Regions from separate parts of the Homo sapiens genome. Here region 2 is linked to region 1. Evidence: fine-mapped expression QTL. Tissue or cell type: whole blood. Region 1 holds a variant in brackets; the other region holds the start of a gene. All regions are shown on one strand. Distances are between the middles of the regions.

Region 1 (8,100 bases):
GGAAGTGGGAGGCCCTGGAGGAAAATCTGCAGGAGTCATCCCCAGTGCAGTATCGGGAAGCCTCCAGGCTCCTCTCACACCTTTGGAATATGTCCAGGATCTCATCACCTGGCACCAGTCTTGCAGCCCCCACCGGGATCTAACACCCAATCATCCGTCACCCGATTGTGCTCGTGGCCTCTGTCTGGTCTCCTGGCCCCAGCCCCACCGCTCCTCACACAGCTGCTGGGGGTCCTTTTCACCTCTGCTCCCTTGTTCACAGCTCTCGTTTCTCATAGAAATCACAGTTCCATCAAGGCCAGCAGCCCCTTCCTTCACTACCCTCATCACCTACCACTCCCCAGCCTCTTCTCCAGCCCCACAGGCTGCCTTGTTCATGGCTGCCACTGTGACCTCTTCCAGGGATGCTCCAAAGACGAACACCTGCCCGCTCTGCAAGGCTGCACCTCGGGTAGGCATGCAGTGCCCGCATGACCAGCCCCCATTCAGCACCTGGATGCAGAGCCACCAGCAGCTCCCCTGGGCAGGGGCGCTACACAGGTGCCCATGCAGCTTGCTGCCAGGAGGGAGCACTGTGTGGCTCTCTGGGCCCTGGCCTAGAGTGCCACACGAACCCTGTTTTGCTGGTTGCCTGACTCACTCTGACTTGCTGTGCCCCGGTCCAGGCAGCTTTCGTGGGCAAATGCTGGGTCCCAGGACTCTGCCCGGAGAGGTCATTTGTGTCCTTGGTCTCAGTCTGCTGTCATGTACTGTAGTTGTGGGCAGGAGCTCTTAGCTGGCAACTAGCTTCAGCGCTGAAGATTTTTTGTTTGTTAAAGATTGGAAGGAACCTGTTTGGTTTTCTTGCCACGGGACAAGAAGGCAAATAGTGAAGAAAACAGTGTTTAAAAGGGGAGGGGCTCTACTTAGGTGAGAAGGCATCTGTGGGAGATGAGGAGGGTGTGCAGGGGCTCGGGGGCCTGGAGGAAAGGTGGGGTGGTGCACAGCGTGATGGTGGTGGCACCCACTGTCAGCAGTGGAGACCAGCCCTCCAGGTGGTATGGGGAGGTGACTCCAGACAGTGGGCCCCTTTCCTGCTCTGCTGTGGGTCTGATAGATGCAGATGAGGCAGGCGAGATGCTGGGCCTGTATGTCCCTGGGAAGGGGGCACAGCTGTTGCTGTGGCTGCCTGCTGGCCTGGCACAGGTCTTGCAGGTCTCAGAGCTTCCTGAGAGCTGTCCTCCTGCCCATGGCAGGGCACCATGTGTCCACAGGCCCACAGCATAGGCCTGCCTCCAGACTCACTGGCTTTTTTGAGGCAGAGCCCCATGTTTCGTGCTGGGTATAAACAGAGCTCCAAAAGACGCAGGTGAGAATGCTGGAGGCTTATAAATGGGGTGAGCTGCACTGCTGCTGTCTTAGGAGGGGGAGAGCACCAGGTGTGCCTTCATTATTCTGCTTCTTGGAAAGGTTGCTTTGTGTTTCCATTGATCCTGGTCGGGTAAGCCTCAAGGAATCTTGGCAGCCCAGACTGGAAGGGCCGTGCAGGGGAGAGAGTGGGGCCTAGGGCTGGCTGTGCCATGCCCTGGGCATGGCCAGAGCCCACCTGGAACCTTGCAAAAGAGAGGCTTGGAGGTTAGCAGTCCCCAACCCTCACGCTCTCTGCGGCAGGGGTACACGGTTTCTGACTGCCTTGTGCCTGGCTTAGGCAGGAGCTGAGTGGGTGACAGTTTCCCTTGAGCTGAGAGAGGTCCCCGGGAGCCAGTGCTTCCTAAGTGTTCCCTGCAGCCAGCTGCTGGCAGTGCCGGCCAGTGCCAATGCTGCCTGACGGCGCCTTTCTCCTGGGTGTTGGGTGGACTTTGTAAGTCTTCTGTTTATCTGAGTGTGCTGTCCTAAGGGAGAGCTTCCCTGCCTGTTTCCCTTGCCCATTCCCCTGTTTGCATTTTAATCCAGTGTGCCACAATCCATTACTTTGTTATTATGCTGTTGCTCTAACTTTAAATGCCACCCACTAACCGTGATCCAGCACCCTCTTCTGGTGCTCAGGCTGGCACTTACTGCTACCCAGGGTTTGTGGCCTGTGTGCTTGCAGGCTCCAAGGAGTGGCTCCCGCTAGGCCCAGCACCTGGGGTGACTCCCAGGAGGTTGGGGAGTCCCGAGTGAACACCTGGCCACAGTGACCACCAGTACTTGGCGGTCCAGGCCCTGTGGTTGATGATCCTGTCTGACGCCATGGTCCCCTTGAGGACTGCACAGCTTGTCCTCTGATGTGATGTTGTCCAGCCCCACCTTTTGTCTCCCCAACAGGCTCTTCAGAGGTGTTCCTGCCCCCAGACCCCATCTTTGCCTCGGCCATGTCTGAGAACGACAACGTGTTCTGTGCCCAGCTTCAGTGCTTCCATTTCCCCACCCTGCGGCACCACGACCTCCACAGCTGGCACGCCGAGAGCTGCTACGAGAAGTCTTCATTTCTGTGTAAAAGAAGTAAGCCCCCTTGAGCTGGCGTTCTTGGGGAATGTCTGGGCCCTTGTGTCACTTTGTTGGACCCTGAGTTCAAGGTTTCGGAGGCAGAACCTGATTTGCAGTGTTGCGGTGGACGCCCCTTACCAGCTCACACCTTGTTCTTGGGGCCCATTTGCAGCTCTGTGACCAGGGCAGCTGGTCAGCATCTTAGAGCCCACGGAAGCATCTTAGAGCCCAGCTTCTTTTCCCACGGAAGAGACAATCATCCCTGTCCTCCCTGTTGCAGTGTTGTTAAGAGAGTAAATGGGAATGAGGACCCAAGGACTTGGCATCTCTGGAGCATCTAAGGCTGTTTGTCACCTCCCCACCCCCCATTTCTGCCATCCTTCTCTCTGCTTCTCTGCTTCTCTGTTTACCTTGCCAGTCTATGGTGTGTGTGTTTTTTTTTTTTTATTAAAGCCAGCTAACTCTATTGCTTTTGGGGGACAGGGGTCTCAGGAGCTCTTGGTGGGGCAGGTCCCCTTCCTCTTCACCATCACAGGCTTCTGGCTTCGCAGGATGGCGCTGGCTCTGGGATGGCAGCTGTGCGCAGGTTGGGGAGAGGCTTTGTTCTTGCGGATCATGTGTGTGATGTTGCCGAGCATGGTGCAGGCGTTCTTGTTGACGGTGGTCCTCTTTTTCTTTTTTTTTTTGGGACAGAGTCTCGCTCTGTTGCCCAGGCTGGAGTGCAGTGGCGTGATCTCGGCTCACTGCAAGCTCCGCCTCCCAGGTTGAAGCGATTCTCCTGCCTCAGCTTCCTGAGTAGCTGGGACTACAGGTGCCTGCCACCACG[C/T]CCGGCTAATTTTTTGTGTTTTTAGTAGAGGCGGGTTTCACAGTGTTAGGATGGTGTCGATCTCCTGACCTCGTGATCCGCCCACCTCGCCCTCCCAAAGTGGTGGGATTACAGGTGTGAGCCACCGTGTCCACCCGACGGTGGTCCCCTCATAGGAGGTGGCTGGCTTCTGCTGGCCGGATCTCCACTCCATGACCACCACCACACCTTTGCCATCAGCTGCCGGGTCCACACCCACAGTCCTGCAGTGAATCAGCTCGTTGTAGTGGAAGGAGCTGCAGCCTTTAAGTTCTCAGGCTCAGTGCTGTGGGTCTGCTTATTCCCCTTGATCAGGCCGGATGATTCCTCGCGACCATCCATTGCAGATGTGCGGCCGGGGCGGCAGCTCCTCCCAGGTGGCTGGCAACAGAGAGAGCTTCATGATAAATCTTGACTGCTGGTGTTACGACTTCCTCTGCCTTGTTCTTGCCTGTTATGTTGCCTATTTTTGACCCTTTTCTATGTGAATTTTAGGATATGTTTTCTAAACTCCTTTATTGGTTCTCTTAGTTTGTGGATTTTGTTGATTTTCTATTTAGATGGGTTTGTTTCTTCTTTCAAATCTTTGACATTTATTTATTTATTTACATTTATTAGAGATGTGGTTTCACTATGTTGCCCAGTCAACTCTTCTTGCTACAGTCTCCAGGACAGTGATGATTAGAAATGGTGGTAGTGAGCATTCTTGTCTTCTCAACTTAGAATGCTATTTTAATGTATCAATATTCTACAGAATGCCTTCTATAGGATTTTAGAATGTACCTGTATGAAGTCAAAGAAGTACCTATTCCTAGGTTGCTGGGAATATTTGTGTTACAAAAGTGTACTGATTTTTATTAAATGCTTTTAGTGGATTTTATTGGGGTTATGTAGTTTTTCTTCAGTCTGTTCAGTCATTATTTCATATAAATGGATTTTCTTATGTTAAACCATCCTCATGGTTTATATATATATAATATATTATATTGGTGGATTTGGTTTGCTGATATTTAGAATTTTTGAAACTCTTTGTTGTTTTTTGAGACAGAGTCTTGCCCCGTCACCCAGGCTGGAGTGCAGTGACGTGATTTCAGCTCACTGTAACCTCTGCCTCCCGGGTTCAGGCAGTTCTCTTGTCTCAGCCTCCTGAGTAGCTGGGATTACAGACATGTGCCACCACGCCTGGCTAATTTTTGTATTTTTAGTAGAGATGGCGTTTCACCATGTTGGTCAGGCTGGTCTTGAACGCTGGTCTTGAACTCCTGACCTCAAGTGATCCACCTGCCTCAGCCTCCCAAAGTGCTGGGATTATAGGTGTGAGCCACCGTGCCTGGCCTGAAACTCTTTTAAGAAGTGAGGTTGGCCTGTTACATTTTTTTCTATACTCTCCTTGACTCTCTCTTTTTTTTTTTTTTAAGGTGGGGCATCACTGTGTTGCCCAGGCAAGAATGCAGTGGCTAATCACAGGCACGATCATAGCACAGTACAGTCTTGAACTCCTAGGCTCAAGTGAGCCTCCTGCCTCAGCCTCCCAAGTAGCTGGGACTACATTGACTCATTTCTGTATTATACTATATTAGTTTTCTAAAATGAGTTGGCAAACATTTTATTTTACTGTTCTCTAAATCCATTTGTCCAAGTTGGAGATAAACTTGTCTTTGAGTGTTTGATAGAACCACCTTATAGGACCATCTGGGTCAGGCGAGGGAGACTTCTGTAACTTGTTAATTTAGGTATAATTTCAAGCTTATGGAAAAGGCAGAATAATACAAGGAACTTCCTTTCATACACCATTTACACAGACTCACCAGTTACAGTATTTCAGTTTTACTGCATTTGCTTTATCATTCACTTTCTCTACATGTTTCTTCTGAATCATTTGGGAGTAAACTGAAGATACTGTGGACCTTAATTAAGCGTTTTATACTTCAGTGTGTATTTCCTAAGAACAAGGACACTTTCTTATGTACCCACACTATATGGATCAAAATCAGAACACTTAGCATGGATACAGTACCATACAGTAATCCACAATCCATTATTCCAGTTTTATCAGTCGTTCCAATAATATCCTTTATAGCTATTTTTTTCATTGTCCAGAATCATGCATTGCATCTAGTCATCATGTCTCTTGGATTCTTTTAGTCCTTCAGTTTGAGTAATTTCTGTTGACCTGTCCTCAGGTTTACTAATTCTTTCCTTGGCTATGTCAAGTCTGCTTATGAGCCCATTGAAGGTATTCTTCATCTGTTTCATTGATTTTGTCTGTTTTTTTATTTATAGGATTTCCATTTGATTCTTATAGATTCCATCTCTCATCTGAATTTCCCATCTAACCTTGTATATTGTCCAGCTTTTCCACTGGAGCCTTTAACAAATTAATCGTAGTTATTTTAAATTCCCTGTGGGGAAGTTCCTTCATCTGTGTCATATTTGAGTCTGGTTTTTTGATTGTTTTGTCTCTGGAGCATGGTACTTTTTTCTAGGCTTTTCATTGGAACTCTGACATCTTGTGTGGGACAATAGAGACTGAGTTCAGTAGTTTTGTGCTTGCAGTGGCTATGCCTTTACTTCCACTAGGCCTTTCTTGTGGGGAGGTCTTTAGTACAGTGCAGGGCGTTGATCTGGGCGAGAGTTGGGCTGGGCTTGGGGTTTGTTGGCACTGTAGTTGCCCTCAGTGCACCTCAGGCTTTCGTATTTAGCAGCATTGTTGTTCTGGGTGGAGGCTGGTTTGCCAGAGGGTTTTTCTTAATGTCTGCTCCACCCTCTACTTGAGGTCATCCCTTTGGGCTACATCTCTAGAGTCTGTCTTTTGCAGCCCGCCTAGCAGTAGTCCACTGTGTGACTCAAGGCTTGTTAGCATGCTGATAGTAGGGTCTGATGTTCTAACTGTATCTGAGCCTTAAGCAGGCCCAGTGCCCTGAGGATCCAGGGTGGAGCCTTCACAAGTGCTTCTGACCCTCCTGCAGCTGGAGTTGGGTCCAGCACAGTGGCTTTTCACCAGGGCCCTAAAGGCTCCAGGTATGCTCTGATTAGAGGCAGCCTGACTAGAAGCAGGGCAGTGGAGGTGATTGGTTTGGGGAACATATTTGACTTTCCCTGGTGGGTTTCCAGTTGGAAGTATGGACTCAAAATAGAGAAGCTGGTGGCCACTGGCCAGATCCTGACTGCCCTAGACTGGTTGCTACAGAAGTGGTAGGTCAGAGGCCTTTGGTCATATGTGGTCTGGCCTTTGTCAGGTATCATCATGAGGCAGAAATGTTCTATAAATGGAATCATATAGTTGCAACCTTTTGGGGTTGGCTTTTTTCACTCATAATTCCCTGGAGAGTCATCCAAATTGTTACTTTTATTAATGATTTGTTCCTTTTTTTTTTCTTTTTGGCGACAAGGTCTCTGTCACCCTAGAGTACAGTGGTGTGATCACTGCTCACTGCAGCCTCAACCTCCCAGGCTCAGGTGAACCTCCCACCTCAGCCTCCCGAGTAACTGGGACCACAGGTGCATGCCACTGTGCCCAACTTATTTTTGTATTTTTTTTTTTTTTGTAGAGGCGGGATTTCGCTATGTTGCCCAAGCTGGTCTCAAACTATAGGCCTCAAGTGTTGAAGGACATCTGGGCTGTTTCCAGTCTTTGGCTATTACAATGAAAACTGCCGTGAACATCCGCATACAGGTTTTTGTGCAAACGTGTTTTCTTTTTTCTTTTTTTCTTTTGTGTGTGTGTGTGTGTGTGTGTGTGAGACAGAGTCTTTCTCTGTTGCCCAGGCTGGAGTGCAGTGGCACAGTCTTGGCTCACTGCAGCTTCCGCCTCTTGGGTTCAAGCGATTCGCATGTCTCAGCCTCCCGAGTAGCTGGGATTACAGGCATGTGCCACTACGCCCAGCTAATTTTTGTCTTTTTAGTAGAGATGGGTTTCACCATGTTGACCAGGCTGGTCTTGAACTCCCAGTCTCAGATGATCCACCTGCATCGGCCTCCCAAAGTGCTGGGATTACAGGCATGAGCCACCACGCCTGGCTGCAAATGTGTTTTCACTTCTGTGTGATAGATGCCCAGGATTACAGTTGCTTGATTGTATCGTAGTTGCAGGTTTAGTTTTTAAAGAAACAAGCAAATTGTTTTCCAGAGTGGCTGTACTATTTTATAGTCCCACTATCAACGTAGGAGTGATTCAACGTAGGAGTGATTTAATTTCTCCATATCCTCCCCAGCGCTTACTGTTTTCACTATTTTTCATCTTAGCCCTTCTGTTAGGTATGCAGATATGTATGTAGACCTGTGGCTCCTTATGGTTTCAATTTGCATTTCCCTGAGGCTACTGATGTTAAAACCTCTTCATGTTTCATGTGCTTATTTGCCATCTGTATATTCTCTGTTGTTCACATTATTCTTCCGTTTTCTCTTTGCATCGTTTGTTCGTTTTGTTTTGAGAAAGGGTCTTGCTCTGTCACCCAGGCTCAAACGCAGTGGTGCAATCATAGTTCACTGTAACCTCCAGCTCCCGGGCTCAGGCAGTCCTCCCACTTCAGTCTCCTGAGTAGCTGGAACTGTAGGTGTGCACCGTCATGCCTGGCTAAGTTTTTTATTTTCTATAGAGATAGGATCTCACTATGTTGCCTAGGCTGGCTTCAAACGCAACTCCTAGGCTCAAGTGATCCTCCTGTATTGAGATTACAGGTGTGAACTAATGATCTGTTTTGTTCTTTTTTAAACTGTGGAGTTTTGAGAGTTCTTTATGTATTCTAGATACCAGTCCTTTGTCAGATATGTGGTTTGCAAATATTTTTTCTAGTCTGTAGCTTGCC
Region 2 (8,100 bases), 67 kb before region 1:
GCAAGGAGGGCCAGTCCAGGCTCTCACTAGACCCTACTTCTCCAAGGGGACTGAGGTTGGGGTCTTCCCGAGGTAGAGAAGTGACCATAGGTAGACTGTGGACAGTGATCATCGATGTTGCTGGCAGTGGAGCTCCTCTGCTCTGACATTCTCTGTGTCCAGCACCTGCTTCAGGCCCCGCCCTGGGGGAGTGGGAGTCGCATGACAGTCCTAGCCTTGGGTTTGACTTTGGCCCCATCCACTTAGAGGCCATGGGAGAGGTAATTCTGAAAGCGCTTGTCCTTTGTGGTTGCCTGTCGTATCCTACTTGCCAGTGTCAACTTCTAATGCAGGGGTGTCGTCCCTTGGGACAGGCTGGGACGGGGACAACAAGATGTGGTCAAGACCACACAAGACTGTGGGACATGCTCAGGCTGGAGTGTGGCTGGGCCATCCAGCAGAGCCTCCTATTTCTCCCGGGCTAGAGAATGACCACAGGGTGCGGCGACCCCGGCACTGTTGAAAGCTGGGTGCTGGCTGGACACAGGGGGCCTCTGATGGACAGAGCACAATGAACGAGTTGCCCAGCAGGGTAGGGAGCTCAGGAGTGGCTGAGAGGCTGGCCACCTGCCCTCTGCAGCCTCCCACAACCCCCACTGGCAGCCTTGTGGGGCTGGAGAGGTCTGCCCAGACCCTCAGTCCCAACTGCAGATAAAGCCTGCGCTCCTCTACAGGGGTACCTCGGCATGCTTCTTGGTCCTGTCCTCTCCCTGCCCTTTCCCGACCCCAGCACCGCACTTGGGGGCGTCCCTTCTGAGGCAGCGGCTTCCTCACTCACCTTTCAGCTCTGGCCCCTGCCCCTCCAGGTCTCTCCCAGCCCCAGCCCAAGCCCCAGCCCCAGCCTGGGCCTGAGGTCATGGTCTGGACTGGGCACGTTGGGATGTGTTTTCCCAAGCAAACGAGGAATCATTGCACAATCTGAGTGGGAAACCAGTGGAGGGGAGCCCAGGACTAGTCAGTTGAGGCAAAGACATTCACTTTGGCATCTGCATTAATATAGTGATTTATTGCTCCTTTAGCAATGTCGGTTATGAAGTTCAAGGGGAGAGAGAAGAAATTGATGAAAACAGCGGCTCATCCGGGACCGTCTTCCTTCTCTGGTTTGTGCCTTGACTTCTTCAGAGCTTGGGCCTGAAGGCGTGAGCTCCATCTCATTCGCCGCTGGCACACTGGGCCACAAACGGCTCACTAGGTGCGCATCTCTGGAGGCTGCTGGGGGGCCCTTCCTCTTTCTCCCTGGTCGACGGCTTGCTGGGGAAGCCTAGGATGTCCGACTGCCTGGACATTTGCATTGCCAACCCCTCAGGTTTTGTCTCAGGCTGTCCCTCGGGCTGTGTCTGTTCCCCAGGCTCCAGCTTGGTGGCAGACCTCTTGGCAGAGCCAGGTTCAGGGGTCCACAAGAGTTCAGTTCCCTGGGAGCTTTCCCCCTCCTTGTTGAAGACCATAGAGGGCAGTCCCTGTGCCTTGGGCTGCACCCAGCATTGGCTGAGGGTGTCATGGATGTGCAGCCGCTGGCTGACGTCGGGCTGCAGCATGCAGTAGATGAGGTCCTTGCACTCGTCTGTCAGGTTCTTGGAGTGTGGGAAGTCCACGCGGTGCTCCTTCTGGATACGCAGCATCTTCCTGATGTTGGAGTCGTAAGGCATGGAGCTGCAGACCATGATGTAGAGGATCATGCCCAGGCTCCAGATGTCATACACCATGGGCTGGTAGGGGATGCCCTGCAGCAGCTCGGGGGCTGCATATGCCACCAACCCGCAGAAGTTCTTGCTTAATCTCTGTTGGCCACTGTCATCCCGCAGGCAGAGCTTGGAGAACCTGAAGTAGAACAGCTTGATGTTGAAGTCCTTGTCGAGGAGAAGGTTCTAACACTTGAGGTTCTGGTGCATGATGTCCAGGTCGTGGCAGTATTTAATGGCTGAGGAGAGTTGGTGGAACATCTTGCACGCCATGTCCTTGGGCAGGGCTCCCTGGCACTCAATGAACTAGTTTTTTTTCTGCCCCTGGCTGGGCTCCCAGGGCAGATCTGGGGCTGGGGGCTAAAGGCGGGGACTGGATGCCACCCTGAGCACTGGTGGCTGCTCTGAGGACAGTACAAGCAGCAGGGGCAGCACTGGAGAGTGTGGCCATTGTTTTTTCTGGCAGTGGAGCCCCTCTGCTGTGCCAGGCTCTGTGTCCAGCACTTGTTCCGGGCTATGCCCTAGGGGAGTAGGAGTCACATGACTATCCTAGCCTTGGATTTGACTTTGGCCTCATCCACCTAGAGGGAGTGAGCACCCCTTTCTCACAGGAGCCAAGTGGAACCCTGGGCCCCTCAGGATGACTTGGTAGGGCGGGCTGGTTGTCACTCATGTTGGGTTGGGTCCCCACCTGCCGTGGCCCTTCCCCCTTTTCTCTGCTCCTTCACCTTCTTCCCTAACGCTGACTGCCCACTGCCAGGCCTTTGTGCATTCTTGGTTCTCCTCCTTCCAGACAGCCTCCTTCTCCTTCCCGCTGGGGACACCCCAACTACTGTCTCCTGGAAACCAAAAATAAAACTCTAACCCCCCAGCCATCTGAATGGACCCCTCCTCTCCACCAAGGGCATTCCAAACTTAACCTGAAAAACTATTTCAGGCCGTGATAGGAAGTGGGAGTCAGGCCTCATTATCCCTCCTCCCTTCAGGTTTCAGGCACAGCTAAGCAGTGTAACATCGACACAGAGACTTGAAGACTGACAACAGACTCTGTGGCAGTAAGATACCAGCATGACAGCAGGCCCGGAAGGAAACACATATTTTACTGCAAAACAGGTTTCTTTCACATATTTTGAAGTCGCTCTGCAAAGCTGTTTTTTGTGGGGAAAATCTACATTCTGTAGAGAATCCCTATCCCTTTCAAGGTCTTTTCTCCTGAGAGAATTAACTAGAGTCTGGCACCTTTTATTTATTTTTCCTTTTTTTTTTCCTTTTTTTTTTTTTTTTTTTTGAGACAGAGTCTTACTCTGTTGCCCAGGCTGGAGTGCAGTGGCATGATCTTGGCTCACTGCAACCTCTGCCTCCCCGGTTCAAGCGATTCTCCTGCCATCAGCCTCCTGAGTAGCTGGGATTACAGGCGTGTGCCACCACGCCTGGGTAACTTTTGTATTTTTAGTAGAGATGTGGTTTCACCATGTTGGCCAGGCTGATCTTGAACTCCTGACCTCAGGTGATCCGCCCGCCTTGGCCTCCCAAAGTGCTGGGATGACAGGCGTGAGCCACCACACCCGGCAGAGTCTGGCACTTTTTAATAAGAAACATTAACAGTCTTTTCTCTGTGAAGCCTGATACCTGGAGGCTTCATTTGCCTAAGAAACTTGGTCTCCACAACCCCTTAATGTAGACAGTCCCTTTTATTGATTCCAGGTCTTTAGATAAACTCTTTGAACCAACTGCCAATCCGCATGACCTAGAAGCCCCCCTCCACCCCCCACTTTCAAGTTGTCCCGCCTTTTCCGACTGAACCAATGTATATCTTACATGTGCTGATTGATGTCTTGTCTCCCTAAAATGTATAAAACCAAGCTGTGGCCCTACCCCCTTGGGCACTTGTCAGGATCTCCTGGGGCTGTGTCCCAGGCTATTGGTCACATATTGGCTCAGAAGAAATGTCTTCAAATATTTTACAGAGTTGGACTCTTCGCCGACACTGCCCTCCAAGGTTCACCCTGTTGGTGATGACGGGAGAAGTGGCACTTGGAGCACTGTTCGCAGGGGCGCTGAGCCTCCTCTCTGCCTAGCTTTCTTTCCTGCACATGTGGCCTTCCCCTAGCCATTGTGTAGGCAGGTCCTCCAGGGAGCCGGCTTCGCTGCAGTCTCCAGGACCTGGCCTTCCCGGTCTCTCTTTGCCTGACACTCTCTTAGGCCATTCCTGTTCCTCTTTCCCCACCCTCAGAACCGGCAGGCCCTCCCTCCTCCACAGCGGTTCGGCCTTAAAAAGACCCCTTTGGGGCGCACTTTTGGGCTGCTCACGGGACCTGAGCTTGCAGGTGTGAAGACCCTTGGAGTCCCAGCCAGGTTCCCACTTCGTTCTCTCCGCTCCCCACCCGCGCGACCCCTCGGCGCCCCGCCCCATGCCCCGCGCCTTTCGATGTCCATCCTTGCCGTCCCGCGCCCGCCGTCCCTAACCGGCGTCCAGAGACCCTACTCCCTTCGGTGGCCCCGCCGCTCAGGCCCCGGCCCCGGCCCTGCCTCTCTGCTTAACCAATGGCACGCCTCACTCCGTATGGTCCCGCCCTTCCCTTAGAGCCCGCCCCTCAGTCCCCGCCCTTAGGTCCCCGCCCTCCGCCGTCGCGACCTTAGGCCTCACCCTCTTCGGAGGGCTTTGGCTCTGGCCCCGCCCCCCATCTTGACGGTCATTGGCCCGCGCCTGCGTCGCGGGCGGGAGGCGGGGCGGGGCGGCGCGGCGCGGAGCCGAGCAGGACGGCCGCCATCTTGCGCGCAGCTGGAGTCGGTGCCTGAGGTTGCAGCCGAGAGTGTGCGCCAGCCCGCGGCCCAGCCGAAGCTCTTTCCCGCCGCCTCTCCGCGCCTCGCCCAGGTTCAGCTCCGCCTGACCCTCCGCTTGGCACGGTCCCCTGACCCTCAGTCCGGCCTGGTCCGGCCTTCCAGCCGCCCCGGGGACGATGAACGGAGGATAAATGGTGCCCAAGGCAGACAGCGGCGCCTTCCTGCTGCTCTTCCTGCTCGTGCTCACTGTCACCGAGCCGCTGCGGCCAGGTGCGCCGCGCGATGGGGGCGGTGTGGGGGCTGGGCGGCGAGCGGGGCCGGGGTCGCCCCGGGACCTCCTTTCACCCGCGGCGCCCTCCTGCAGGGGCCGCGCCTGGGGCAGGGGCGGGCGGGGCCTGGCTCGCGGGCCGCCTGGCACTCTCTGCGGACGCCTGCTGGAGCTTACCTGGGCTCGCGGCGCCTCGGACTTCGTGCAGCTCTGCTGTCCAGGATGTTGCCTCTGGGCCCTTCCCGGGAGCGGCGGCGGCCAGGAGCTACGCCACGGGCGCACCCTCTCGCCAGTCCAGCGTCGGAGTCGGGCTGGGGACAGTGGCTCTCAGGGGCACCTGGTTTCACAGACGTCCTCCCAGCAGTGGCCTAGTGCCAGCCTCTCAGTCCTGGAAACTCCTCGCCTGGACAGCGGTGGTTGTGGCTGTCATTCAGTGAGACGTTGCGCTAAGGAAGTCCTCAGGTCCCACCGGGCCTAGAGGAGGCACCAGGAGTCAGCCTAGCGTTGTGTGGCCGGCGCGAGCGTCCCGGGAGCAGAGACCTCGCCACTGTGCGGGGCCCTTAGCCGTGCTGCGTGTATGTGATGAATGAGTCCGTGCTTTGGAACTCCCCTCGGAGCTAGTGTGTTCTTAAGTCTGTGGTGGGGAATCAGAACCGTGGCAACCAGGAGACCCTTTTCTACCTATTTCGGTGTACCTCCCCTTGAACTGCACCAAAAAATCAAACTCCCTAAATGCAGGGCCGATGTATCCATCAGGCACAGGAATCCTGGTATCACTTGCCCACGGTACTTTTAGTAGCCTTCGAATGTTATTTTATTTTTTTTTAAAGTCAGCAGAAAAAAAATGAACTTTTAGGTCAAATAAAATGTTTTCGTATGTATATTAATACAGTCATCTTTATACTAATACAGTGAAAAAGCATGACTCTTAATATTTCTTAATGGAGGAAAGGTCCCATGAAGGCAGAAGTGCCAGGGCCATCTTCTCTGATGACCTGGGTGTGGGAGCACGGGGTGTGTGGCCCTCTCCTGTGCCCTAGCCAGGCTCCCAGCCCAGATACACCGCACCTCTTGGCTCTGCGCTTGTGTCATCTATGTGGAATGTCTGCCTCCTCCCTAGTGCCTGCCTGGTGGCCAAGGCCCTGACCGGTGCTCAACCTGGACAGATTCAGTGATGCTTCTCTGGTCTCCCCATGTAGAGCTAGTTGCTCACTGCTTTTGGCTGCTCTCTGGGCAGCGGGATGACTAGTTGTGGGGTGGCCTTGGTAAGAACAGAAGCCAGGAAAAGGGCTACCTGTGGAGGAGGGTATCATATAGGCTCTTGGAGGTCAGAACCAATGGGTTTGTGGATTCTTGTGATTAACTTCTTTAGAAAACATATATGTACGTGTAGAGAGGTAGAAGGTCACCGTTTTCTGATTCTTGAGTCCCAGTTTTGCAGATGAGGTCACCGGGCTCAGGTGAGGCCATATTATGCCTGGCTTCTTTGGGGTGCCTCTGGTTCCAGGCCCAGCATCTCCTGCCTGGGTGATAGAGGTGACTGACGTCCCCGACTCCTTTTTCCTTGCCAGCCTTTTCACATAGCCTGCCAACTGGCCAGCAGCAACTGAGAAAGTGCCTGTGGGTGCTTGCCCCCTGCCCATCCCTAGGGAATCCAAGTGACAAGAACAAGCCCCTCCTTTTAGGAGTGCCTGATGTGGAACAGAGGCCAGGTGTAAGTCACTTGTCACACTCCTGTGTGTTGAATACCCTGGAGTGTGGGGTCCCAGAGGTGGGTGGAGGTGGCCATCTTTTTGTACCTGTGAAGCAGTGAGGGCGTCACAGGAGACCTCACACTGAGGTCGGAGTAGGGCATGGGTGGGGTGGATCTGGTAGAGGGAGCAAACTTATTCTTTCGATTCCATGACTCTCCAGATGAGAACATTGCAGCTACCCCTGGAGGCGTCTTGAGTTGCCCTGCAGAACCCGGGAGCTGCAGCTGGCTTCCTGGCTTTGGCTGGGCAGGGAGGGCAGGCCTCTGGGCCTGATGTGTTCCTTGTATGCCCGTGTGTGCCTCTTCACACATTCACCATGTGTCCTTCCTGAGAGTGCTGCAGGGATCTGCCTGGCTGGTGCTTGCAAGAGGCTGGGGCTTCTCTGGTCTTAGTCTGCGTTCTTTCTGTGGGGATTCCGGCCTTAAAAGCATACTTGAGTATGAGGAAGGTATCAGTCAGAGCCCACTTCTCAGGAGGGTGTTTTCTGACTCCTGCCTGGTGGGGTCCCTGAAGATGATGCCAAGCCACCTGGGCTTCCTCTCTGGTACAGGGCAGGGTGGAAGGCCTTTCATGGAGTTATGGGGCAGCAAGTGCTTGCTGTACTTGACCTTTCACCAATTTTTTTTTTTTTTTTTTTTTTGAGACAGAGTCCTGCTCTGTTGCTCAGGCTGGAGTGCAGTAGCGTGATCTTGGCCCACTGCAACCTCCACCTCCTTGGTTCAAGCGATTCTCCTGCCTCAGCCTCCCGAGTAGCTGGGATTACAGGCATACGCCTCCACGCTCGGCTAATTTTTGTATTTTTAGTAGAGATGGGGTTTTGCCATGTTGGCCGGGCTGGTCTGGAACTCCTGACCTCTGGTGAGCCACCTGCCTTGGCCTCCCAAAGTGCTGGAATTACAGGCCTGAGGTACCATGCCCAGCAATTTTTTTTTAAGTGCACATTTGAACTTGATTTAAGATGTGTCATGTGCCGGACACTGTTCTAAGCACTAACATATGTTAACTCTCAAGAGGTCCCTGCTAGATGCTGTTTTTAGCCTCATTTAAAGATGGGGAAGCTGAAATCCAGAGCACTCATGAAGCTAAGGCTGAGATGAGATTTCATCGTAGGAGTCTGGCCTTCCCCCCATCATGCACCCGTGACTGGGGTCTGTGCACTCCAACTGTGTGTCTCCAGCCCAGCCACAGGAGTACCTCATATTATGCTCTGAACAGCTTCCTTAACCCCAGGTGGAGCCACAGACTGCCTCTGTCCCCTGTTAGGTCCCAGGGTCCTCTAGGTGAGGGTGCAGAATCTTTTTCCATGTGGATACTCCAGTCTGAGGGACAGAACCACTCACCCTCTGCCAAATCCCTTCTGTGTTTGGCCATGTGACCACTGATGATGTGTGTTATGATCACTGGGGGTGTGATGAGGAAGAACGGTTGGAGACTACTGCTGAGGTAACTGACAGCGAGATGGTGGGGGGATTTGGGGACCACTGATTGTGATACTGTCTCATTGGCCCTTTCTCCATCTGTGTAGAGAAGGCAGCATCGACTGCTGATTCTAAAACTGTTTTTCTTTCTAGCTTTA

Evidence for each region. PIP is the estimated chance that this variant, and not a neighbour inherited with it, causes the effect.
Region 2: DGCR2 starts here. The variant in region 1 is fine-mapped to the expression of DGCR2 in whole blood (TOPMed, PIP above 0.99).

Annotation. Positions count from the first base shown.
Region 1 is chr22:19,051,349-19,059,448 of GRCh38, reverse strand. It overlaps DGCR2 (DiGeorge syndrome critical region gene 2), which reads left to right. Exons shown (of 10, transcript NM_005137.3): 6 at 2,287-2,463. It also overlaps the pseudogene RPL28P6. Among named protein-coding and RNA genes, the nearest start is that of DGCR11, 7.0 kb to the right of the region's middle. The variant C/T (reference allele first, on the strand shown) is at 3,275.
Region 2 is chr22:19,118,800-19,126,899 of GRCh38, reverse strand. DGCR2 (DiGeorge syndrome critical region gene 2) reads left to right here and starts at 4,488. Exons shown (of 10, transcript NM_005137.3): 1 at 4,488-4,772. The coding sequence starts at 4,694. It also overlaps the pseudogene TSSK1A. RefSeq lists silencers at 4,164-4,603, 4,724-4,843 and an enhancer at 4,628-5,129.